Homo sapiens: one gene and its partners. The protein of the gene in region 4 interacts with the protein of the main gene of each other region in a pairwise test. Each region holds a gene or a part of one and is shown on either strand. Other genes may lie near its edges. The genes, in order: POU6F2, SPDEF, ZNF410 and TTC23.

Evidence for each region.
Region 1: the proteins of TTC23 (region 4) and POU6F2 interact in binary tests that used the Homo sapiens proteins (3 or more experiments, as listed by UniProt).
Region 2: the proteins of TTC23 (region 4) and SPDEF interact in binary tests that used the Homo sapiens proteins (3 or more experiments, as listed by UniProt).
Region 3: the proteins of TTC23 (region 4) and ZNF410 interact in binary tests that used the Homo sapiens proteins (3 or more experiments, as listed by UniProt).

What each region holds. Positions count from the first base shown.
Region 1 is NC_000007.14:38,980,869-38,987,908, reverse strand, and holds part of POU6F2 (POU domain, class 6, transcription factor 2), read right to left. Parts: exon of another isoform or gene 6,403-7,040; intron 3,660-6,402; exon of another isoform or gene 3,504-3,659; intron 3,033-3,503; exon of another isoform or gene 2,988-3,032; intron 1-2,987. UniProt on the Homo sapiens protein: Probable transcription factor likely to be involved in early steps in the differentiation of amacrine and ganglion cells. Recognizes and binds to the DNA sequence 5'-ATGCAAAT-3'. Isoform 1 does not bind DNA.
Region 2 is NC_000006.12:34,553,330-34,560,296, forward strand, and holds the start of SPDEF (SAM pointed domain-containing Ets transcription factor), read right to left. Parts: upstream 3,001-6,967; 5' UTR 2,600-3,000; intron 31-2,599; exon of another isoform or gene 1-30. UniProt on the Homo sapiens protein: May function as an androgen-independent transactivator of the prostate-specific antigen (PSA) promoter. Binds to 5'-GGAT-3' DNA sequences. May play a role in the regulation of the prostate gland and/or prostate cancer development.
Region 3 is NC_000014.9:73,924,839-73,931,878, reverse strand, and holds part of ZNF410 (zinc finger protein 410), read right to left. Parts: intron 4,773-7,040; coding exon of another isoform or gene 4,651-4,772; intron 377-4,650; coding exon 338-376; 3' UTR 1-337. UniProt on the Homo sapiens protein: Transcription factor that binds to the sequence motif 5'-CATCCCATAATA-3', and is specifically required to silence expression of fetal hemoglobin in adult erythroid cells.
Region 4 is NC_000015.10:99,135,793-99,141,591, reverse strand, and holds the end of TTC23 (tetratricopeptide repeat protein 23), read left to right. Parts: exon of another isoform or gene 1-1,847; coding exon of another isoform or gene 1,848-1,896; exon of another isoform or gene 1,897-2,015; coding exon of another isoform or gene 2,016-2,192; coding exon 2,193-2,275; exon of another isoform or gene 2,276-2,325; coding exon of another isoform or gene 2,326-2,364; exon of another isoform or gene 2,365-3,464; coding exon 3,465-3,582; coding exon of another isoform or gene 3,583-3,631; 3' UTR 3,632-5,005; coding exon of another isoform or gene 5,006-5,155; 3' UTR 5,156-5,269; downstream 5,270-5,799. UniProt on the Homo sapiens protein: Participates positively in the ciliary Hedgehog (Hh) signaling.

The DNA of each region.
Region 1 (7,040 bases), on a different chromosome or scaffold from region 4:
ACCCAATGGACAGTTCCATAGGCTCAATTCTGGAAGTCTGTGTAGGGAAAGATGGCATGGTCAGCTCACACTCCCATCTTTTATTCAAATATAAGATTTCATTACCACCTACGTTACTGTCTTCTTAGTATATGTGAGGTGACGTAATTAAAGAGAACGAGCAGAGACATATCCTAAAAGAAACGTAAAACATAACTTTTTACATTCTCTGGAATATTTCAATAATGTACACTTTGTCTACCTTCTCAGAACCCTAAATTAGTAGAATTCAAGAGCTAAGTCTCATTACATGTTTTTATTTAGCCCTGCTTGTGACTGCATTATTTAACTTATGAATCAGGGTTGAAGGATTGGTCTGACAATATGAAATACAGAAAACAGAAATTTAACTGACATTAATTACCATGAATTTCTTCTGGTCTCTTTTTCACTAATCTAGATACACTAACTGAATCATGCATTGGAAACATACATCTATGTCAATTATCTTAATAAACAGCATTGAGGCTCATGAAAGAAAATAACAAGCATTTTGTTCAGTTGAGTTTGGTGGCTTGGAGCAAACATAAAGGTTTTCAAGTCACAGTGTGTCTGACTGAGAACCAGCTCTTTACGCCATTCTCTGTCATTCTTACCTCTTTGTTACTAAATAAAATATTGTGATCTTTATTGCTATTTTAATTGGTTTGAGTATTCAATATATAGATGATAAGTATCTTTTCTTGTGGCATAAAGCTACTCTTCACTTTTAACATTACACTTAACCTTCTCTCAGGAGACACTATTTATGAGTTCTTCTGCTCAAACAAATCCTATTTGGAAAATTCTGAAATCTTTTATGTTAAGAGAAATGAAACTTCTCTACTTGTTAGACTGATTGCAGAGACTAACTTATTTTTAAAAGCTAGATCAAGAGAGAACTGGTTAAATAAATCACTGTATATCCATAAAAGGGAGTACTACAGAGAAGGATGCAGATCTATTCATAGTCACATGAGAAGAGGTTCAAAATATTTTTTATATGTAAAAGTAAGTTGCAGAACTCTATGTATAGTATAGTTCTACTTGGGTTGTGTAAGGATTGCATATACATGCACAGAAAATCTCTGGAAGGATATATAAGAAATAGTTAACAGTGGTTATTTGTGGCGAGTGGAATCAGGATACTTTACTTTCCACTTTATATTATTCTGTGCTATTGCAATGGTTTGCCATATGCAGAAATTACTGTTATAATTTTTTAGTAAAAAATTCAAAAATACTCATAGGAGTCTACCATGTAATTAACTCACTTCAATCACGTGCATATAAGAATTGCGTTCATGTACTGTCACTTTTACTCAGATGTTCCACTCTCTGCCTGAACTAGCTGTTTAAATTCTATTTGATAAATAAAGGTAGAAAGGGAGAAAGCAATTGCAGTTGATAGGTTTCAGCACTAGTACAAATGGCAGTACATTGCAAACCAAAGAGCCCCCCTGTTTTTGGAAGGAAATAACCACAATATTCATACGTTTGCAGTTTTCCAATCGACTATGTACTCGAATTCTTACCACAAACTTGATGTTTAACAGCTGCAAAGTACTACTCAGGAGGCTGAGGTGGGAGCGTCTCTTGAGCCCAGGAGTTCACAGCCAGCCTCAGCAACATGGCAAGACCTCATCTCAAAACAAAAACAAAAAAGTTGCAAAGTATTTTTCCATTCTCAACCAAGTTGAGAGGAGTATTTTAAGTAAACATCTGTCATAATTTTTTCAGGTACTAAGATTGAAAACAGAGACAAAATATTTTTAGATTATTAGAGGTTAAATAGTCAAGTATTCCCAAAATGTTTAAAGTATGTCTGTGAGTGTGCGTGTGTGTTAATGAATTAGATTGCTAGACTGCCTCATTTTCATTTTTACTCTAAATTCTTTCGTCACTAGGAATCTAGATATAGGTTTGTTTACAAATGAAAAAAGTTTTCAGAAAAGAAATCACAACTTTAGTTCTTGAATTGAGGATTAATATATTACCTAGGAACAATGTAGGACTGTTTGGGATTTGAGCCATATTAGCCTTCGTTCCCAGAAACCTTCTGAATATTACTACAAACACCTCTTGTATTAGCAGTTCTAGAAATACACCAAGAAATGCACCTAAGAATGTGTAAAGACTCACTTTGTTCAAGAAATATTGAAACAGAGAAAATGAATACAGCAGAGATTTACTTTTAAGACCCTGGAACACCATCTGCTGATATGAACAGAGAGAAATTTTCAAACTTGGCATTCTTATATCACAGCCAAACTTTCACAAAATCTCTTATTTTTCTCAAATTCTGACCTAGGGCATTTCATCCCACAATCATCACTTCTGCCCACCATTCAACCAGCATCTTGTCAAATCTGGCTGCAAGATTAAGTTTCCCGATTCGGAATTCAATATTGTAACCCTAAGGATATAAGATTCAAGCTGGAACATTCTGGATTTTTTTTTAATGGATAAAATTGTTTCGGCCCAAAGACCAGAGTTCGCCCTGACCATAATGATGAATCATCAGGACTGACACTAAGTGAAATGAGTTTGATGTTCTTGTTTTATTTGTGCCCATTAAGCAGCATTTTACATTTGTCCTAACTCTCAACCTTTTGGAGAAAAGGTTGAAAGAGGCTTGTTTTCTAGTATTATTTAAGACTTACAAAATTAACTAGCTGTGTCTGAAGCAAGTTTGGCGTGCCATAGTCCCTACTATTGTGTGTCCAGCTCCATTCTTGCCCATTCTGCCCTTCCAATTTGGAGGAAAAGAACTGAAGAATTAAGAAATATCTACTTTTCTCATATTTCCTCAGTATCAATTACGGCTTCTGGTATCCTTGCTTCTGTCTTGGTACAATATTTACCTTTTACTCTCAACAAAAACCTACTTCCTTTAAAAAAATCTGTATATGAATTCTGCACTGAAAACTAAGCTCCCTATAAATGTTGTGCTTTGTTCTTTTGAACAGGAATTTGCCTGAGTTCTGATCAATGCTAAAAACACCATTTAACAGGTATGTATTCTTTTAAAAATATACCTGTTTCTCTAAGTTTTTAGATGTTAGAGATAAATATTTTCTTCTAAAAATAGTTTTAAATTATTCATCAAAAATCAAAGTCATAAAATATGCAGGGTCAACATCATATTAAACTCCAGAAATAATAAGTACTATTTCACAGCATCGGAGCACTGGCTAACCTCTTGTAAAAACTCTAAAGATTTAAAGAAAAGTTTTCCTTAATATTGAAATTTGTGTACAGCACAAGCACTGTGAGGCCTTTTCTTAGACTTTGTTTTTTAATTCTAGTTTTCCTGTGCTAACGTATTATTTCACTGTATTTTTTGTGTGTGATTTGAATTGCTAGGTGAGATGAGGTAAGCTTACAAAATAACTTAGAAATATAAACTAAAGAAGCAAGTATATTGGTGAGTTTTCTGCTGCCTTTTTGCTTTGTTTTGCTCGAGGTCTTGTCTCTCTTTCCAGTGCCCTTTCCTGCCTGGGAAGCCCACAAAGATTTCGCTTTTCACTTATTACTCATCAAACTGACTCTGGTTCACAGTGGAAAAGAGAAGAAAAGCTGATGGAGAAATGGCAGTGAAGAAGGAGAACAAAATGTCAGAGCAATACTTTTGAGCGACTATATCCTTTTCATTAAAGGTGTCAACACGTTTATTTGCATCTTTGACCCTAGGACTAGGGAAGTGCTGGAAATTATGTGGGTACTTTTTCCCATGGGAAAAATGTACCTCCTGGGTCGGGGGAAGGCTGAAAATAGGTGAAAGTGAGAATACTCAGTTGATCTTCAATTTTTTTTGTCTTATAATTAAAAAAGTGCTGTTGAAAGGAATAGGGTTGCATTTCACCTAGAATCAGTGCCAAGTATCAACAGCTAATGTCTGTCTTTTGAAGAAAGAATCTTTCATACCATGGGGGTTTTAAAGCTACTGATAAAACAAAAAGCTATTTTCTGAAGACCAGCCAACCTGAAAAACAAGTGTTTTAAAACCTAGAGAATTTCCTTTAATGTAAATAATCAAAGATGTTTTCAATTATTTTGCTATTACTTACATACAATGGTTTTACGTTTATGAGAAGTGCTATCCCTGAAATAACAATAATATGATCATTTATAAGTGGGGTGTGGAAAAATAACACAAGCATACAGAAAACCAGGAAGGAATTTTTCCAGTAAAAATTAAGCAATATTCACCACAATTGGCTCACATTGTGGAACTGGGAAGAACAAGAAAATAATAAAAAGAAAAATAAATCTTTACTGAAATGTAGTGATAGTGTTTCACTCGCAACCGCTTCTTCAAATTGAGATGCAGAAGAAATGTGTAAAAAGCAAAACTGGTACAAATCTTGATTACAATTTTGGATCAGTTTAAGACAATATGGCTCAACAGAGCAATTTACATAGGCTAACAGAGCAAACTTGAGTTGGTAATTTACTTTATTGGATACACATTTCACCTACAAAAAAAAAAAAAGAAAGGAGGGAGGCAGGAACAAAAGCAGAAAGGAAGAAAGGGATGTAGGGAGGGAGGGAAGGGAAAAAGAACATAAATCCAGGTTTGAGATTATATATAGAGCAGCTATTATCTCCCAAGTAAAGATTTGGCCATAAATTACAAATTAATTTAGAAGTTGTGTAATTTGGATTTTCTTTTAGCGTTCAAATTAAAGTCAATATTTATCTTTTTGCACATTGTTTCTTCAAGTCTGATCCTTTCATGTTTGCACTTTATGTCCCAACTTTATTTTCTACTCAATCAAGCATTAGAAAAGAGTAACAGCTTGTACAATATCACAATGCAATTGAAAAGTGAAGTTTTTCAGTATTTGCAGACATGTTAATTATATTCCAATTTTTGTAAGCAATAAAGAGAAAAATACTTGAAACTGGTAATATGCAGTTTACATAGCAAAGAAAAGGTCAGTGAAGAAACATCCTTCACTGACCTCTGAAACAAATATTATAGATTTTACACGCAGGAAACTTATTACATGCAAACTTTCTTTTGTAAGCATTTGTATTCTAAAAGTTGCAGCCACCTCTCTGCATATGTTAGAGGTAAGAATAAAAAAGTTTTAAGTTCTTAAGCATTGAAAATGATAATTGAATGGTACAGAGAGTTTCATTAATTGACCTTAGAGATAGAAAAGAAAATTTAGTTTCAAGACCCAAGTTCATCTAATTGTTGTTTAGTATTAACATTATTGGATAGTAGTATTACTATATTGTTAAATTTTACTTAAATGGACAAAATTGACTTTACCATTTAAATGTCTGCTTTAATTTTTAAAAATTCTAAACATAATAAAAATTAAGTCCATCTGGTGAAATGTAAAATGTTAACATAAGACTTTCCTATAAGTATGAATGAAATATTAAGTGAAGTTTTTTAGGTCAATAAACAATACATAGTACAAATTCAATTTTGGTCAGTCTGGAACTTACCAAAAGAATACTAGCACCAGTATGTATAAGAAAGAATAATCCTTAATTAATCTGTATTTTTTCTAGTATACCATCCATCCATAATACCTTGGGGAAAAAGTATTCTCAATAAAATTAAAGCAGTAATAATTTCACACTCCCAAAATACATAAATTTGTTGAAGCAATCTGTCAGTTTCAAAAATACAGGCATTCACACCCACAAAAATGACTTTTTTTAAGAGTATATGGGAATTATGCTTCACATGAGTAAAACAGGGTTAGGTTAGCCCCAGTGTTTCATTTTTATATGTAAGGCACGAATATCAGTCTAAATTGACAGAGGGCAATCTTCAAATGTGTTATGAGAGCCAGTGTCCCCTCTCCCTAGACCACTTGCATCACACATCAATTTGAGCATATTTTAGGTAAGCAAATTATTATTAAATCTACATTAAATACTTTTTGGAACAAGGGATGGTATAAACAAACCTCTATGTAAAATTAATTGTTTTGATGCTATAACGGTGAAATATTTGTGTGTTTTAAAATCTCCATATAAGAAAACATACATGGAGATACTGTTAAGCCAAATGCATGCACACATACTGAGCACTGTCTGAGACATTTGCATTAGTTTTCTGATGTACAACTTTACAACACTTCACATGGTCGAAATGTACTTTGAAAAATAAAAGACCCATTGTACCAGTAAGGGAAATTGTAAACAGCTTTTTACTGCACTTCTAATGCTATTAAAATATAGAATGTGTGGTCTCTTCTCTCTTCTACTAGTACTTTAGCAATGTCAACTGGAAGTGCATCCATGATCACTTTATCCAGCTGTCTCTCTCTCACTCCCAGCAAACTCTTAGATATACTTGATAAATATTTTCATCTAATTTGGTTCATCTGTTGTTTTTATTAACAACTAATTTAATATCCTCTGTTCTGCAATATTTGCAAAAGTCAGTCTATAGACGTGAAGCCAACAGGGACCCTCAGGCCTGTGCATCAGGATGGTGGGCTGCCTAAGTCCTCTGGGGACAGCAGTGCCAGAAGGAGTATTGGACACAGTGACCCGACTGTATGAGATGAGAAAAAACAAAAACAGGAGGTCCGCAGTACTGATGAACTAATCTGTCACTCACAAGCTCAGGTCTGCAAAAAAAAGAAACGAAGCACTAAACATGGCCATAAGAGATGGAAATGCAAGTCTTCATTTCTAAATGATAATCAAACCAACGATCAGAAACTGATTAACTGTGTAATTGAATTGAATTGAAAATCATCCCATGAATAACAATCCATCCTACCTTCAAGGGGTTAGGAAGCTAACTACAGGTAATTGCTATCAGAAATCTGATTTGATTTCCAAAAATTGTGTGAATGAACCAAGTTTCTTCATCTTGATATACTAGGCAGGGAGTTTGTTCTTCCAAGTACTAGACTGCTTAATTGCTTGCTTGGGGGAGGAGAAATCCTAGGGGAAAGGCATATATGAGCAATTTCTACTCTGTGAAGCCAGCGCTGTGTCCTGAGCTGGATCATGGCCAGAAACAGAAAAGTCTACTCTTC
Region 2 (6,967 bases), on a different chromosome or scaffold from region 4:
AACTCGGCTTGTGCAAAGTTTGCTTTGGGAAGAGTTGTTCCACCTGACAGGCCACTCGCTTGGCTGGGGGCACAGGGTGGGGCATGAACGGGGTGGGGGTGGGGACCAGGGGAGGGTCCCAGAAAAGGTTTGATCCCTGACTCTCTGCTCTCTAGCTCTGGGGCTGGGGCCAGTGACTCAGCCCCCTCTGAGGCTCATTTTTCTTGTCTGTTAAATGGGCTGTCAAGAGTATGTCTTAAAGGGGTTGTGGAGATTGAGATGGAGGGTGAATGGAAATCATTTATGATGGGTTGAGTGTACATGAGGGGGGCCCTGGGCACAGGTGAGGGGATCAGCTGGAGAAGAGGAAAGAGAGAGGGAATGGGGTGAGGAAGCCGGGGAGCAAAGGAAGAAGCGGAAGGTGATGGGGAGTAGAGGGAGTGGGCGAGAGAGTGGAGTCTGGGGGGAGCTGAGGATGGTGGTGAGGGAGGCTGGGGCCCTGTCCTGTTCTCTAGCCCAGTCCAGGCAGCTGCAGGCTTCACCCACCCTCCCTGCCCTCTAGGAGGAACCAGAACCAAGAATTCCTGCCCCACCCACTTCCCCCCGGCCCCCGCACCCGCCACCACCCCCCAACGCCCAGGAGACCGGCTGGCAAATCCAACTCCTACACAGCCTTCAAGGTCCTGCTCCAGGCTGTCTCCTCCGTGAAGCCTGCTTTAACAGGCAATAGCCTTGTCTAACCTTGTTTCACAGACAAGGTGTTGCAAGTACAGTGAGGAAAAGTGACCCGCCCACGGTCCCACATGGCGGGACCTCACCTGTTCCTTCTTGCCCTCCACCTTGAGGGTCTGTGTCCCCCTGTCAGACTAAATTAACTTCCCCGGGTTATACTCAGGCTGCAACAAGTCATTTAGCACAAAACTGCTCTAACGGTTTCAGGGCTATTCACTTTATACTCACAACGACCTCAGTGGTAAAAAGTGGGTTCTCCCGGTTTTTGCACTTCCTGCCAGCATCACACTTTCTGAGCATCGACTGAGCACCTACTGAGTGCAGCCCTATTCCCTCAGACTTGGTTGACAGAGAAGCCCTATCGAATTCAGAGGGTCCTTGTGAAAACCAAAGTGTTTTACAACTGACAGTGTGCAATAAGCAAGTCTGGTAGTTTTCAGCTCTGGATACCCCCACGGGGCCTCACTCAGAGGAAATGCTTGTACATGCACTGTCAGCCTCTCAAAGGCGAGGGTGGGTCCCCTACGCAGTGAGACCACCTCCTCCACACAGCCCCACCTGCCTGGGAGCTCCGAGAATGCCCCCCACCATTTGTCTGTGAGTTTGGGGTGGTGGGACTCCAAGCTGGGGGTCCTTGGCTCTGGCCCCTCTTGCAGGTGGGTGGAGGGAAGCTCAGCCCAACTGGCCTGGCTGAACCATGGCCTGGGCCTGCCCGTCTGGTGGGGCGTCTCCTCCCCATCCCTGCCCACCAGCTTGGGCCTGGGGCAGCCTGGACGCCTGTTTGCTTTGTTACTCAGCTGAGCAGCTGGTGATGGGGAGATGCAGCTTTATTGGGGAGGTTGCGGCAGGAAATGAGGCAAGTCCCAGCCCTGGCCGAGGAGGAGGAGAAAGCCCATGGCCATCATAAAGGACACAGGCTACGCGGGGCTCATGGCCTGGGTGTGGGCTGCTGGGCGGCCCCAGCTGATAGGTGAGGTGAGGGATCTTGGCCTGCCCCTCCCCAACATGCACACACACGCACACACACATGCACATGCAACACGCACGCGCACATGCACACACCACACACACACATACTTCCGCGCACACACACGCACGCACACACCTCCACCAGCCTCAGGGGCACCCAGTCGCCCAGGCCCTTCAGCTTCCCACCCTGTCATCCCACCACCCACTTCCTCTCTCCACCGCAGAAATCTGGCAAATCTTAGAAATGAGCACCTTCGAGGTACTGCTACTGTTGCTTTCCTTGTGTGCCAAGACCAGGACCCAAGGCTCTCAGCTTCCCCCAGTGTCCAAGGGCTCAGAGTGTGTGCTCAGCGGTGACCCCAGCCCCCTGGTTCCTGTGCCCATCCCTGCCCAGCCCAGCTACTGGGCTCTGGACCTGTCTCCCCTGTCCCGAACTGGACCCGGCCTTAGACTTAGCCCTGACCCATCAAGCTCCAGCAAGCCCCTGCCCACTGGTGGCCTGGCACCAGGGAGACCCTTTCCTCAGCAGAGCAGCTGGGTTGGCAGCAGCAGCAAGCCGCTTGTGTTTCTCCAGCCAAGCAGAACTGGCTGGGTCTCAGGGGCCGGGGCTCTGCATCTGCACGGCGGCCTCCCCTCAGGCTGGGCAGACTGGGCTCAGTGTGGGGGACCCCAGGCCTTGCCGGGCAAGGGGGCTCACCCAGCATGTAGAGTTGGCCCAGAGAGGCAGTCTGGGGAGCATGAGGAGGGGGCAAGGAATTCTGAGGGTAAAGGGATCCAGGTCACAGGGTCACTGATGACTGGGAGATGAGCTCTGAGCTGGCAAAGTGCGCCCCCTCCAAGTCCTGCCTGCAGTCGCCCACCCCCCAGCTGGCAGGGAAAGACCCCATGCCAGGGTACCCCCACCTCCTGTTGGACTCACCTGTTAGCTGCCTGGTGCCCAGGGAGCTGTCTGCTGCAGTGCCAACTTCAGGGGCCGGGAAGAGGTGTGGGCAGCTGAGGCCACTGGCGTGTCTCAGCCAGGCATCTGGGGGGCCAGCGGAACCAGGGGCCAGCAGGGCTGGTGGCAGAGGCAGCACTCAGGTTGGCCACTGGGGGCCTGGCCACCCTCAAGGGGTGGCCCTCTGAGGTCTCAGGGCTGCGTGCCTGTAGGGAGTCCCCTACCCCCAGCCCAGGGCTGCCTGCTGGCACCGTGGCAAGGCCCAACCTGAGGGGCTTGCAGGGAGCTGGCAGCAGGCTTGGAGGACTGGGTCTGTGGGGCAGTGTGGACACGGCAGAGTGCAGGAATGTGCTGGGAGGAAGTCAGACAGCCGCGAGATGAAGAGTTGGCCAGGGCCTGATTTCCCATTATAAGTAATCCTTCCTTATTTACCTGAACAAATACACTCCTTGCTTACCTCAGACCACAGGCAGGCTCCTGATTAACCCTTGCAGGTCTCCCCCTCCTTGCTGGGGGATCCATGCCCTGACAGCTAGGGGACTCATTCATTCACTCGCTCATTCACTCGTTCATTGGTTGCTGCATAGCCACTCAGCTCATATTACGTGCAAGGCGCCAGAGATACGTCGAGTGGGTCCAGGGCTGGGGTTCTAAGATGGATCAGCTGAGGGCCAGAGACAGACAAGTGAGCAGCAGTGGAGATCCAGAACCACCCATGCCCAGATGGAGGACTGAGGGGGCACTGAGGGTGGGCACCAACTAGGGAAATCAGTGAGGGCTTCCTGGAGGAGGTGCTGTCTGGCTACTCAGGCCAGGGATGGAGAGAGCTTCAGAGAACCCTGGGGAGGGATCCCGAGGCTTGTGGGCCAACCACGACCTGGTGGGAACTGTGTTCTCTGTGCCCCACAGGGTCCTCATGCAGACCTGTCACACAGTGGCGGTGAGGAAGGACTCCTAGCTCGCTTTCCCAGGCCCGTAATCGGGGGCCAGCCAGCAGCAACTTGCTCTCCCATAGCCCCAAAGGGTGATGGCAGGGATGCCACGCAGGACAGAGGTACCCACCACCAAGCACTTGCTGCCCCAGACCCTCCACCTCCTTGAGCCCTGCGGGGGCCACACAGTCCAGCTTTTGGCTTCCTCCATGTCCTGCCAGGTGGGCTGAGAGTTGTCCCTGGAGGCTGGGCCTTCCTTTCTCCAAATCATCTCAGAAGGGCTCCACGTACCTGCTACCTCCATTCTGACGGGAGAAAGTTCTAGATAATGCTGATTTTTCTCTTGTTTCAGGAGTAACTGTGTAACTGCCGAGAGCATGAGGATTCTGGGGCTGCAGGGGATCCCAAGGCCTTTAGAACTAGCCCCTCACCTTCACCAATACCCACATTCTCCAACGTAAGGTTGCACTTTGCACCCCCAGGGAGCCCTGTACTTGGCTGTTATCGTCACTGGCACCTTGGTTGAGGATCAGTTATCAGTCATTCCCCAGAGAAGGTTGAGGGAGGATGGAGCGGAGGAAGGGGAGGTAACACAAGGTCCTGAAATGGTACACTCGACCACTCCTAATCCCCAATGGTCCAGCCCTCCAGGGTCAATAAAGAAAGACACGCTGCGTTTCCAGGTGGATCTCCTTCCCCTAGAGTGCGTTTTTGTGCCTGCTTCTCTGGTGGCCACGCCTCCCTCCTCCCCACTCTCACAGAAGCCTGGCTTATATCACAGCATTCTGATGCATTAATACTAATGACCACTGCTTAACAGGCACCTACTGTATGCCTGTATGTTCGATGCTCATGAGATGCTAAGCTATTAATCATACTGTAAGTACTATAATGTGGGTAAGTACAAGGAATATCTAATAAATGTTTATTGAGGCTGGGTGCGGTGGCTCACGCCTGTAATCCTAACACTTTAGGAGGCCAAGGTGGGCAGATCACTTGAGATCAGGAGTTCAAAACCAGCCTGGGCAACGTGGTGAAACCCCGTCTCTACTAAACATACAAAAAATTAGCTGGGCGTGGTGGCAGGCACCTGTAATCCCAGCTACTTGGGAGGCTGAAGCAGGAGAATCGCTTGAACCCAGGAGGCAGAGGTTGCAGTGAGCCAAGATCGTGCCACTGTACTCTAGCCTGGGCAATAGAGCGAAGCTCAAAAAAAAAATGTTTATTGAGTGGATAAGGTGTCAAAGATAGCTGTCCATTCTCCCCTTTTCCTCAGTAAACAAGGCTTGATTTTTATTTTTTATTTTATTTATTTTTGTAGAGACAGGGTCTCTCTATGTTGCCCAGGGTGGTCTCGAACTCCTGGCCTCAAGCAATCCTTGTACCTCGGCCTCCTAAAGTGCTGGAATTACAAGCATGAGCCACTGTACCTGGCCAAGGCCTGGTTTTTAGCTGCGCACGTGGCTACCTAGAATTAAGACTATCCCAGCCTCCCTTGCAGCTAGATGTGACTATATGACAAAGCAGAAGTGTCATGTGCCAAGATTTCTAGGAATCTTTCTTAAAAGTAAGCTGGCATGTACCATTAACTCCATTCTTATTTATCCTTCCTCCATCTTGCTGGGTGGAATGCAGCTGTGATAGCTGGCATTCTGGCTGCCATCTTAGACCATGAGGACAAGATAGTAGAGTAGGCAGCAAGCTAGAAGGAGCCTGGGTCTCTCAGGATTATGTAAAACCTCCATACCAGCTGCAGACTGCCTGCCTTAGGACTTTTATGAGAGAAATGGACTTTTCACTTTTGTTAAGTGGGAATTCTTACTGGTGTGGCCTCACTCAAGGCCCAAGGGAGCATTTCACAGGGGTCTCCTGAATGGATGGGCCCAGCTAAACTGTACTGGCTGTGGACAGGGTCTCTACCCATTTAAGCCTGGAGTAGGGAAACAAATGTTGCCTCTGGAAGCTGGAAAAGGTCCACCAAGAGGGAGCAAGGGAGGGCTCCCCCATCTGCTCAGCTGGGCTCACACAGGCCCAGCCTCCAAGAGGCTGCTTGGGGTGGACATCAGTGGTGTGCCCAAGGTGGGTTGGATGCCCATCTAAGGCAATGCTGGTGGGCTTCAGGGGAGGAAAGGCCAACTTTCCCAATAAGGGAACTCTGGGTGACACACATCCTCTTGACCCCCTGATCCACCGGGCATGGTGTCTTGGCACCAGCTTGGGATTTGATCAAGTACATGTCCTGATTCTGTAATTTTCCAGCTTTGTGACTTTAGGCAAGTGTCTGAAATCTGCTGAACAGTCACCTCCCAAATCCAGAGAACCCTGAGAGTTACTGTGAGGAGGGAGAAAATGCTGGTCAAAGTGTTCCATGAACCTGGTTGCCCTATTCCAGGGCCTTGCTGACCACCAACCTGGCCACGTGTTTGACAAATGCCATCTTACTCCTCACAGCAACACTCACAGGTAGATGTTGCTATGCCCATTTCTCTTTTCTTTTCTTTTCTTTTTTTTTAAGACAGAGTCTTGCTCTGTCACCCAGGCTGGAGTGCAGTGGCGCAGTCTCAGCTCACTGCCACCTCTGCCTCCCGGGTTCAAGTGATTCTCTTACCTCAGCCTCTCGAGTAGCTGGGATTACAGGCACGCACCACCACGCCCGGCTAATTTTTGTATTTTTAGTAGAGACGGGGTTTCGCCATGTTGACCAGGCTGGTCTTGAGCTCATGACCTCAAGCTATCCACCTGCCTCGGCCTCCAAAAACGTGAGCCACTGGGCCAGGTATATGCCCATTTTTCAAGTGAAGAAATTCAGGCTTGTACATTTAAAATGTCATGCCCAAGGTCACAGCTGGGAAGCAGATTCAAACTCAAATCCCTAATTTCCATGACTGCCCCATGCCCAGTAAAACCCTATTGCTACTCTCACGTCCTCTCAGGGCCAAGTCCCGGGTCCCTGGAACAGGTCACTGGGTCCACTAGACTTCCTGCCTCCAGCTCCCTGGGCTGGACTCCTCTCTAATCCTCCTCTGGCCAGCTCTCATCAGGTTAAATGTGCCCCCTCCTGTTTGCCCTCCATCCAGACCCCACCCATCTGTTGTGGGCGATGCCTGCTCCATGTCCACCCCTTCCAGATCTGGGGTCTAGTACACAACCCCAGTTGGCTCAGTGTGACTCTGTCCTGGAACTTTTCTCCAGCCTACTGAGATAACAAATTATCTCTTGCCACTAGAGTTTCCAAGCCTTGACGTGTTAAGTCAGGAGCTGCTACCCCCAGGGAGAATAGGGACAGCCCAGAAGAGGAGGAGCCAGACGCCCTCCTGACATCGCCGTGGGAACACCTGGATGAAGCTGCCATTCCCTTTTTCTGTCGTTCAAATGGACTTGAGTCCCTCCTATTTTGGTGGAGAGAACCCCCATCCTT
Region 3 (7,040 bases), on a different chromosome or scaffold from region 4:
AAGGAAAACCTCCCCTCAACAGTCAGAATGAAGAACTTCAGCCAACACATAATCAAATTCACTTTTGGTCTATCCCAGAAATTTGCAGTGGGAAGAGAGGTAGGTACAGTTTCCCAGCCCACAGTCATTGCTTCATTCCTTGTCTGATCAGATGGTAGTTAGAAAAGAAGCTCTCCTACATCCATCTTCTATACCAGGAAAGAGGAAGAGTGGCAAAAGCAGAGTCTTGTGCCTTCAAAGATTCATTCTGGTTCTGTTGTGGGCTAAGGCATCCTGTTCCCAGTATACGCATTTTGAGATCAGATAGAGTTGCTCTTCCAGGAGTCAGCACCCACGCTCATGTCCGTCTTTCAGTTAAATCTCCTTGGTTTAGTAACTGTAAAAGATTGAAAGCAAATCTAGAATAGGTTACAGTTGAATTATAGAAAAAATAATTCATAGTAAAAAGTATTAAGAGTGGAGGATGGAGAATGCACTACAGGGGTGAATGAAGGCTATCTACTTCCAAAGCAAACACATGCACGGACTGATAGATGTCACTGTGGCCTTGGGACAGCACTTTAGCCATGTCATAAGGCTGGCATTTTAACTCTGGCAATCAAATATTCTGAGTCTATAAGCCAAACTATTGTTTGTGTAGTTACCTACTCATCAGTCAGTGACAGAGGAATCTCTAACTTACAGGGAAAACAGAAATGGTGGAACCAAAATCTTATACGTGTCAGCCAAAGGATAGGCTGAAGGCTCAAGTAGGAGAAGGAAATAGGAAGAGGAGCTGTTCCTTTATAAGTACTATATGAGAGCTGAAACCCACTCATAAAAGATCTAGGGGTTCCTTGGGCTTAAAAGAATGATAAGCCTAAGGGACTCCTGCATAATGGCAACTACCACTAACATTCTACTCTATACACAAGGCTCTATTCAAAGGAGTTTTGAAATAATGAAATTGGCTTCCATTTTAATATAAAAACAAAATGAGGCTGGGTGCAGTGGCTCACATCTGTAATCCCAGCACTTTGGGAGGCTGAGGCAGGAGAACTGCTTGAGACCAGAAATTTGAGACCCACTTGGGCAACACAGTGAGGCCCTGTCTCTACAAGAAAATTTTAAAAATTAAGCATGGTGGTACATGCTTGCAGTCCTAGCTACTTGGGAGGCTGAGGGAGGAGGATCACTTGAGCCCAGGAGTTCAAGGGTGCAGTGAGCTATGATCATGCCACTGCACTGCACTCCAGCCTGAGTGACAGACTGAGACTGTTTTCAGACACACAAAAATGAGATGGGAACAATTCAGTAAAATTCAGAACAAAAACAACTTATTAAAATCTAATCAAATAAATTCTTCAGCTTGAGATGTATTTACTTGGTGATCCTAATTTGGATGAAGGTAATTTATACAGTAGAATTTAATGATTGGGCTGGGCACCATGGCTCATGCCTATAACCCCACCACTTTGGGAGGCTGAGGGAGGAGGATTGCTTGAGGCCAGAAATTTGAGATCAGCCTGGGCAACATGGTAAGACACTGTATCCACCAAAAAAACTTTTTTTTAAGAGTTTAATTATATGGAATTTAAAGACTTTTAAACAAAATCTAAAGAAAAAATTAAACCTTAAAGAAACCACATATTCCATTTGATGCTGTGTGGCAGGAAAGTTAAGAATAGTGTGTTTTTAATGGAGGCCAAGATCCAGATCTTTGCAGTCAAACTTAGCAAAGGTACTTTATGAGAAATATTATAGAATTTGTAATTTCTATTTGTGCCTTGATTTGGAAAGCATTCTAAGAGGTAGTCAAAACTAGCTGGGAATCTCTTATACTGGTTCTTGAGTTCAAGAATGTGAACTCAATGTAAATATGGAGCCCCATTTAGAATGACCTTTAGTAAGTATGACAGCCCAAAAGCCCTGGGGTTCCCAGTTGGGCCTGTGCAATGAGTCCTCCATCTAATTCTCAGATGTGGCACAATAATGAGGGAAAATAGAGATTGTCCACCTGAACCAGAGAGGTGACTTGTAGTTTCTGATATTTTTCCCATGGTAATTTTTCTTCTTTTTTTTTTTTAAAGAGTTTGGCTCTGTCACCCAGACTGCAGTGTAGTGGCAAGATCATGGCTCACTACAGCCTCAACTTCCTGGGCCCAAGTGATCCTCTCACCTCAGCCTCCCAAGTAGCTAGGACCAGCTAATTTTATTTTATTTTTTGTAGACATGGGGTTTTCCTGTGTTGCCCAGGCTGGTCTCAAACTCCTAAGCTCAATTGATCCTCCCACCCCAGCCTCCCAAAGTGCTAGCCACCGCACCCAGCCTCTCATGAAAATTTCTGATAACAGATTTGGTTGTTCTCTGATATTCTTGATAAGCTATTTTTATTTTTAGAGCATATTTACAGGAAGTACAAGTTCATCAGTAGACTTTGATCCATACTGCTTGGTGATCTCCAAAAAAGGTGAAACGGACATGTGTTGCAAATAGCCTTCACCTTCTCTGGCACCTGAAAGTTCTTAAGGAATCAACATTCCTCACTCACTGGAGAAATAGCAAGTTATTACCTAGACCTTGGATGAGGAAGAGGCCTAAGCCTGGAACCCTGAGGGCCTCACAGCTTGAAAAAAAACTGAAGGTATTGGAGGACCCAAACTAGTGAAGAAAGAAAAGGAGGGGATAAGCAGTGGAAATGCCTGTGATACGAGGAGGAGAATAATGCTAAAAGTGAAGAAAACACAAAAGAAGTGAGGCTCAGACAGAGGGTATGTTTGTAAATATACAAAAACCCATGAGGAAAAAGTGACAGTGCAGGATTTTGAGCTACATCCAGGACAGCACTTTCCCTTTTGTGTTGTTAATATTTTTCTAAGTGTTTTGGGCTTCCATTATGAAACTGGGTTTTGTGCCTTCCTGGAGTGAAGACCATACTTCCTTTTTTTGTTTGATTTTTGGGATAGGATCTCTCCCAGGCTGGAGTGCAGTGGGACAATCATAGTTCACTGCAGCCTCGAACTCCTGGGCTCAAGTTGATCCTCCTGCCTCAGCCTCTGGAGTAGCTGGGACTACAGGTATGCACCACTATGCCTGGATAATTTTTTAAAAAACTTTTTGTAGAGACAGGATCTTGCTCTGTTGTCCAGGCTTGTCTCGAACTTCTGGCCTCAAGTGATCCTCCCACCTTAGCTTCCAAAAGTGCTGGGATTATAGACATGATCCACCACACCCAGGTCTTTCGTTTTTTAGGCAGCCTGTGTTATGCTGTCTCCCTGAGGCTGTAAGTGGGCAGCACCTATTATACATGGATGCTCTGAGGCCAATTCCAAGACTTGTGCCTAGGTTCTAGGGAACAAATGTACTATTACTGGATATTCTGAATACACAAATCTGATCACGTCATACCCTACTTCAAACCATGCAGTGGTTCTTCAGTGCCCCCAGGATAAAATCATGCCTTGTAAGACCTTTCAAGAGACTAGCTTATCTTTCCAGCTCTCAATTTTCCTCTCCAGCCCATCTCTTCATCCCATGTCCCATCACACTCAACCCTATTTACAGTTCCACAGAGGCCCTCTACTCCCTTACCTTCTACCTTTGTACACACTGCTGTCCTTCTGCCTGTTATATTCTTCCAACTCCTACTTCTCCATCAAGATGATGTCTATTCATCCCTCCCATCTCAACTTAAACTCTAAAACATATTCTCTGACTTCTCCCAAGACTGGAACGTACTACACTTAAAAACTGCCAGTTTAGGCTGGGCGCAGTGGCTCATGCCTGTAATCCCAGCACTTTGGGAGGCCGAGGCGGGTGGATCACCTAAGGTCAGGAGTTTGAGACCAGCCTGGCCAACATGATGAAACCCCGTCTCTATCAAAAATACAAAAAATTAGCTGGGTGTGGTGGTGGCCGCCTGTAATCCCAGCTACTCAGGAGTCTGAGACATGAGAATTGCTTGAACCCAGGAGGTAGAGGTTGCAGTGGGCCGAGATTGTGCCACTGCACTCCAGCCTGGGCAACAGAGTGAGACTCCGTCTAAAAAATTAAAAAAAAAAAAAAAATTGCCGGTTGATTAATTGGTCACTTCTCCCATCCTAACCTCACTGTACAGTGCAACTCCAGCACCATATATATAGTTATGAAGGTCCTAATTCTGCCTATAAGCTATTTGAGGCAGAGACTATATTTTGTTTACTATTGTATAACTAGTACCCTGCAGAATGCCCCACACATACTAGGTATGTGGTAACTAGCCGCTGAATGAATTAAATTTTCATACATCTGGCATTTATTTGGGTAACGTGGAGAATTTTAAAGATATTTACCAATACAGGAGAGAAAAGCTCTGAGGTTTCAAATATAAAAAAGAAAAGGCTAGGTGCTGTGGGTTGGCTTGCTCGAATAATAATGTGTACTAGGTAAAAGAAAAACGAGATGGTTTTCCTGAAATGACGATTTCAGGGCAACCCTATGGTTGATGAGAGAAGTATTTCTTGTATAAAAGAATCACAATTAGGCCGGGCGCAGTGGCTCATGCCTGTAATCCCAGCAGTTTGGGAGGCTGAGGCGGGTGGATCACCTGAGGTCAGGAGTTCAAGACCAGCCTAGCCAACATGGTGAAACCCCGTCTCTACTAAAAATACAGCCGGGCGTGGTGGCACCTGCCTGTGGTCCCAGCTACTCAGGAGGCTGAGGCAGAAGAACCGCTTGAATTCGGGAGGTAGAGGTTGCAGTGAGCCGAGATGGTGCCACTGCACTCCAGCCTGGGCAACATAGCAAGACTCCACCTCAAAAAAAAAAAAAATCATAATAAACACAGAGGGAACAAGAGAATTAGGATATCACCATTTTGCAGGCCTTAATGAAAAATAGATCTAGGCTATGATCAGTAATGGTTGCCAAAACCTTTACATAACCTACCAGTCAATCTTAAGATCAACTGATTGTCATGTGCCTCCTGATGAGATGTAATAGGAAGCAAGAGCACCATTTATGAAATATTCTTGCCAAGGGGGAAAAATTGAATCTAATCAAACCTCTAAATGTAACTACCAGTTTTTAGGAAATACAGTGGATAGAGAAATTAATATTAACAAAAGGAGTCAATCAGCCAAAACCAGAATGTGGGAAAATCTTTAGGACAAAAACTCCCAATTCCTGGCCGGGCGCAGTGGCTCACGCCTGTAATCCCAGCACTTTGGGAGGCCGAGGTGGGTGGATCACTTGAGGTCAGGAGTTTGGGACCAGCCTGGCCAACATGGTAAAAGCCCGTCTCTACTAAAAATACAAAAATTAGTGGGGCTTGGTGGCAGGTGCCTGTAATCCCAGCTAATTGGGAGACTTGAGGCAGGAGAATTGCTTGAACCTGGGAGGCAGAGGTTGCAGTGAGCCGAGATCACGCCACTGCACTCTTGACCTGGGCCACAGAGTGAGACTCAGTCTCAAAACAAAAACAAAAACAAAACAAAACAAAAAACCCAGTTCCTTAAATAGATAACCATACTGAAAAAAAAGGACTATTATAAAGAGAATTAAGAGAAGTATTAAACAAATGCAATATACAGACATTGTTTGAATCCTGACTCTAGCAAACCAACCATAAGATATTTTTGAGGGGGAGGAAAAAAAGAACATAGACTATTAGAGAATACAATAAATTATTGTTATCTTTGTTTGAAGTGGTAAAGATATTATAGTTTTTAATATTGTATCTTGTTAGAGGCATATACTGAAATATATACAGAAGAAATGACATGCCTACAATTTGCTTTGAAATACTCCATCATAAACAGCAACAACAACAAAAGGAGGAAAGAGATAAAACAAGAACAGTATAAAGTTAATTGTGTTTTTGTCTTTTGAGACAGGGTCTCACTCTGTCACCCAGGCTGGAGTACAGTGGCACAGTCACTGCTCACTGTAGCCTCAACCTCCCAGGCTTAGGTGATCCTCCTACTTCAGCCTCCCGAGTAGTTGGGACCACAGGCACATGCCACCACGTCCCGCTAATTTTTTTTTGTATTTTTTGTAGAGATAGGGGTCTTATGTTGCCCAGGCTGGTCTTGAACTCCTGGATTCAAGCAATCCACTTGCCTCCACCTCCGAAAGTGCTGGGATTATAGGCATGGGCCACTGAGCATGGCATAAAGTTAACTGTCAAAGTTAGGGCCAAGTGCGGCAGCTCACACCTGTAATCCCAGCACTTTGGGAGGCTGAGGCGGGTGGATCACTTGAGGTCAGGAGTTCCAGACTAGCCTGGCCAACAGGGTAAAACCCTATCTCTAATAAAAATACAAAAATTAGCCGGGTTTGGTAGTGGGTGCCTGCAATCCCAGCTATTCAGGAGACTGAGGCAGGAAAATTGCTTGAACCTGAGAGGCGGAGGTTGCAGTGAGCTGAGATCGCACCACTGCACTCCAGCCTGGGCGACAGTGGGACTCCATCTCAAAAAAAAAAAAAAGTCAAAGTTAGGAGACAGGTGTGAGCTGCCGCTCTCAGCCGTAACTTCGACTTCGACGTGGGTTTATCATACTAGTCTCTCTCTCACTGTACTCTGAAAATTTCCATAATAAAAGCTTTAAAATAGAAAAATGAAGACAAGAAAAATGGAGGAGAAAGAGGAAGGCTCCGTAAGTGAGATATGTATGATTCATTCCAAAGCAGTTACCAGAAAAAGTGACTTAGGAAAGAACCAATGATATCAAGATCAAAAACTTTAAATATAAGCAAAGACAATGGGTCACAACAATAAAAAGAAAAGTCCTGGCAAAAGCATTAACATGTATGCCCAGAACCCTGTAATCCTGGGTACCCCCAAAGATATTAGAGAATAATGGAGAATATTCAATATAGGATGCAGAGTCATTTGAATGATGCAACAGCTTACTGTGGTATAAAGGTTATAATGAAAAGAAGAAGGCTGGGTGCAGTGGCTCACGCCTGTAATTCCAGCACTTTGGGAGGCTGAGGTGGGCAGATCACGAGGTCAAGAGATCGAGACCATCCTGGCCAACATGGTGAAACCCTGTCTCTACTAAAAATACAAAAAAATTAGC
Region 4 (5,799 bases):
GTAGCACAATTCATCCGATTTTTAAAAAATATATTATGAAACATTTGTTATGCAGAAAAGTATGGATAACATAACAAAGACCTTTGAACTCACCATTCAGTATAAGAAATAAAACATGACCCATCCAGTTGAAGTCCCCTCTATACCTACCCCATCCCCAGATAACTACTTTTTTAAATTTGATATCATTCCCATGCTCTTCTTATTTTACTATGGTTTTGTTTTGCATGTTTTAAAACTTCATATTAAATTATAATACATATTATATGCATTCATCTGTCGTTTTCTTTTTCCCCTTGACTTTGTAATCATGAGATTCATCTATGTGGTTATATATACACATACATATATCAAACATTTATATATCACATACATATATAATATATACATATCACAGTTTACATATTCATTACTAAATATTGCTAAATTGTTTTACAAAGGGGCTATACCAGTTTGAATACCCACTATCAATATATAAAAGAATTCTTGTTGCTTTGTATCTTTAACAAAACTTGGTAGTTTTTGCAGTCTGGTGGGTGAAATGGTACCTACCTCATTGAGGTTTTAGTTTGTATTTCTGGTTGTTAATGAGATTAAGCATGTTTATTTCATCAGATTTCAACTCTTTGAATAATCTGTTTATATCTTTTGAGTGTTATTCTATTGAGAGGTTTTGGTTTGGTTTGGTATTTCTCATTACCTTATAGGAATTCTTCATGTATTCTGAATGTTAAACCTTTCTCATTTCTGTGCACTGCAAGAATCTTTCCTCAGCGTGGCTTGTCTTTCTACTTTGCTTATGGTGAATTTTGGTGCACAAATATTTTAGGTTTTCACATAGTTACATTTTATCAGTCTTTCACTTTTGCTTTGTCTAGATCTTGTCTAAGAAATACTTCCCTACCTCAAGATCGTATTTTCCGGTCAGGCATGGTGGCTCACTCCTATAATCCCCGCACTTTGGGAGGCCAAGGCAGGTGGATCACCTGCAGTCAGGAGTTTGAGACCAGCCTGGCCAACATGGTGAAACCTCATCTCTACTAAAAATGCAAAAATTAGCTGAGTGTGGTGGCGGGCACCTGTAATCTCAGCTACTCGGGAGGCTGAGGCAGGAAAATCACATGAACCCAGGAGGTGGAGGTTGCAGTGAGCCAAAATCACCCCACTTGCACTCCAGTCTGGGCGACAGAGTGAGACTCCATCAAAAAATATATATATATATATTTTCCAGTATTTTCATCTAAAAGCTCCAAGTTTTGCATTTCACACTTAGTCCTTCAAATCTTTCTTGAGCTTAATATTTGTGTTTGATTTGGGGTAGTGATCCATTTTCTTCCATTTGGAAAACCAGCGGTCCCAGTACCCATTTATTGACTAGCCCACCTCTTCCTCACCAATCCCGCAAGGCCATTTCTGTCATCTGTCAAGGCTTGGGCTCTCTGCCCTGTTCCACTGGTCTTTTTGTCTACCCCGGGTGACAAACATGCTGTCTTAATTACTTTATTTAAAAAAATAAAAGGGTCTTTGGCATTCAGTAAAGCAAGTTCCTCCACCTCTCCACCTCATTCTTTCTCAAAATTATTTTGGCCATTTTGGGCACAACTTTAATCTTTCTCCTCTCCTTGATTTGCCCTAGCCTACTACAAGCAATCAAATGGCAAGACTTAAAGTAAGCAGAAGGGAGAAATCAAGCCAAAGCCAGCCCTGGGTAGTCCATAAGCTGAATATTTGGTTCCTAATAACTAAGACATTGCTGTGTAGTCAAGAGTATAGACAGCCTATATATTAATAAAAGTAGAGTATGTGTTTACAAAAAAAACAAAACTATTTTTTTAAATCTTTTCCAGGCTATAACAAGGGCCACATTTAAAAATAGAAACTGGAGCCCATCCTCTGGTCAGTACCAAGGTTCTTGCCTTTATTTTTAAAAATACTACTTTTAAATCTATTTTTTGCATACAGATAGTCACAGAGAGTTTTGTGAAATAGTGCTAAAACTGTTCACTTTTGCCTAGATCCCTCAGAACATCCAAACCAAAGGTCAGTCACTAGGAGACATCCCAGGAGCATGCTAATTCCATCACAGCAGGGCCTAAGAATGAGGTCATCTTTCTCTCATTCAAGGGAGACCTTAGTTTCCTGCTCTCAGCGACACTTCCATAGCCTCATGATAGCTGCTTGGTGTTCTACAGTGTCTCCAGATCCAGACCCTCTTATATGGACCGCAGGACAAAAGGACTCTGGCCACCCAGCAGGCCATGGGCATGCTGTCCACGTGAGTTGGCGTCCCTCACACTTTCTCTATCTCATTCCCTTTCCATTCAGAATCTCAAGAGAAAGCTGGTTCTAGAAGGTTCTGTGTAACCTTCTCTGGAATGTTTTGCTGACTTCCCATAACTTGCATAAAGGACAAGTTCCTTTGAAACCCGAGTTGTAAAAGATCTTCCTTGCCCAGGTATTTAAAAATAATTCATCCTTTAAGTCAGAAATATATGCTGGATGTTGTCTTCCTGCAGACCAGCCCCTGCAGGCTAAGGCACCTGCTGCAGGGGGAGGGCCCCGGGAATCCCTGTGGCCTCCTGCAGCCCTGCTTCCGGCTTCCCTCTGCCCTCGGATGCCCGTCAGGACTGGAGCCGGAAGGTTCACTGACTGACCTTAAAGGCTGGCCCCTACGTCCTTTCTCAGCCCGAGCAGAGGCCCAGCGCTCTGCCGTGGAGGGCCTACCTCACAGAGCCTGGTCCGCAGAGAGCAGCCCCAGGGCTGCCTGAGTCTGCTCAGGGAAACAGGGCCACAGCCCGGAGCAGACACAACCTGGCCAGCAGGGCGCCATCCCCTTTGAGGGCAGGGAAGGCGAGCCAGGGAGGCCTCCAGTGCAACCCTGACCATCCTCCTCACCCATGTCCTGCTCACCAAGCCAGCTAAGGGTTGAGGGCCTCAGCTCAGTGAGGATGGTCACAGGTGATTTTAAAAGATGGGAGGGGCCAGGCGAGGTGACTCATGCCTATAATCCCAGCACCTTGGGAGGCCGAGGCGGTGGATCACTTGAGGCCAGGAGTTTGAGACCAGACTGGCCAACATGGCAAAACTTCGTCTCTACTAAAAATACAAAAATTAGCTGGGCGTGGTGGCATGTGCCTGTAATCCTGGCTACTCGGGAGACTGAGGCATGAGAGTTGCTTGAACCTGGGAGGCGGAAGTTGCAGGGAGCCGAGATGGGGCCACTGCACTCCAGCCTGGGTGACAGAGTGAGACTCTGTCTGAAAAAAAAAAAATTAAAAAAATAAAAGATGGGAGGAAAACATCTCATGTTTTATGCTCTGTGCTACAATTCTCCTCTCATTTATAGCCCCTACCAAGTCTTCTCATAAATGGGTCTGGGCACCTGCTGGGCAGCAAAGGCTGGATGGGAACGGTGTGGGGGGCTGAGGGGCACCACACTCACCCCACCCTCTGCTTGTCTGCAGGGCCCCCAAGGTTGCTTCGAAGCCAAGGCAGGCATCAAAAGCCAAAGTGGCCTTCTGCACCAGCATCCCTCAGGACACCCTGCTGGGGAAGGCCCGGCCCGGCACAACAGCAGACTGAGGCCCCCACCCTGAAAAAGCCTAGGACATTCCTGGGCACTGTCATTTAGGGTGCTGTACAAATCACCTCCGCCTAGAAAATGGAATTCAACAGTCAGGATACAGATTTCCAAGGCCAACTGTTGGCCCCAACATGCAACAGTGAGACCATAAGCCTCCCGTGGGCCACATTTTGACAGTGGATGCCCTTCAGGGTGATATATGCTATAAAGCAGTTTTCTATCACCTAAGTGGTTTTTCTTGCCAACAAGAATTTTTACCCATCAGCACTACTGTGGCTGAAAAACTTCTCTTCAACAGTTCAGTGCGCCCTGTGCAGGAGTCAGCCCGGCATCTGCTTGTACACACAGCTCCTTGCATAGGTGTGGAGTTAGATCTGGACAGTGAACTTCAGGAAGTCCTTTCTTATAGGAGGCTAATAGGGATTGAGAATAACATGAGAAGAAAACGCTAATAAAGGGAAACCTGAACACGCTGCTGTCAGCATGTGTTTTCAAAGTGCAGCCTGCCTCAGAGTTCTTCGGAGCCTGAAAAGGGGTTTGAGAAAGAGCCCAGTAGGAGGGGCAGGAGGCCGACACACCTGACTTGGCCTGGGGCCCAGGAGGCAGGTGTAAGGGAGTGAAAAGAAAGGCTAGCCGGAGGCTGCGGGGGGAAGACCGCAGACTCCCTGCTGCTTCGCATCCCTCCTGTGGCCTCCACTGCAGGCAGGACAAACCTGGATGCCACCTGGAGCTGCTTCCTGAGTTGGCACACTATCGTGTACACAGCAGTCTTCAGCCCCCTGGAAGGAGGCCATAGTCGTGTGAGGATGGCAAAGTCGAACAGGAAGCTTTGAGTGCCTTCCTCCACGATGTCAACGAGGAGATCCAGTGCCAGATCGAGGTGGATGGAACACCCAGGGGTAGGGGTGCAGGTGTGGGCAGTGATGTCCCTTCCCCTCCCTCCCCTGGTCCCACAGACTGTGGCCATGAGGCTGCAGGCTGGTGCTATGACAGCAGATTGCAGCACAGGGCCCTCCCCTCCAGCCCCCAGTGGGACATCAAAACCACCCTGGGGCCATTTGTGCAGGGCACCACCTCCAGTATTGATGGGGAAAATAAACTCAGTAGAGCCACGACAGGGTGGAGAGAAGCAGGGACCATTGTCTTCCTCAGGAGCGTGACAGCTGACCCCACAGACCATGCTTGCTGGTACACACTGGTCCCAGACCCAGGCCTGTCGGACATCAGCAGTGTGCTAAAAACGTGTAAGATGTCACTACTCACCGTGTGTCCTATCTAGTTGACATGGGTGGAGTCAGCTAAGGGGTGAATGTTCATATGCTCCCAATTCACGTTGAAGCCCTAATCCCCAAAGGGATGGTATTGGGGGTGGGGTCTTGGAGAGGTGATTAGGTTATGAGGGTGGAGCCCTGATGAATGGGATTAGTGCTTTATAAGGAGAGACACCAGAGAGATGATCTCTCTCTCCACCATGTGAGGACACAGTGAGAAGACAGCCGTCTGCAGGCCCGGAAGAGAGCCCTCACCAGGAAATGAAACTGTTGGCACCTTGAGACTTCCCAGCTTCCAGAACTGTAAGAAATAAATGTTTGTTGTTTAAGCCTTTCAGGCTACGGCTTTCTGTTACAGCAGCCTGAACTGAGAGTCCATGCCGAGTTTTTGAAATAAATGTGAATTCTGATGTTACTTCTTCCTTTCTGTACTTCTTGAAGCGTAGCTTGGAATCACAAAAACTAAAACACATTTTTAAAATTTAGCGCCCCCACCCCACCCCACCCCAGGAAGCAATGAATTTAGGAATGTTCCCTCCAATGTCTCCCATCTGTTAATTCTGTTGACTTCAACGAGAGGAAGACTATAGCTACTTGTGTTTTTCTATTTTTGGTAAAGGGCTACAAGGTTACAAACGGGTAAAGATATCTAGCTATTCCTTTGTCTCAAACTACCTCAGTTTTTTCAAGCCCCTAAGAAATGGCCATGCCTTAGGGTTAACCCTCCAATTTGCACTTATAAGGTAACCAACTGTCCTGGTATGCCCAGGACAGTCCTGGTTTTAGCACTCAAAGTACCACATCCCAAGAAACCTCTCCATCCCAAATGGGATGGTTGGTGGTGTCCTACTGCCACTAGTCATTCAGGCTGTGATGATGACATTTTTACCACAAATTGTCCAGTGTATATTTGATTACAAGCCAATTGGCTTATGCTCTGTCTGC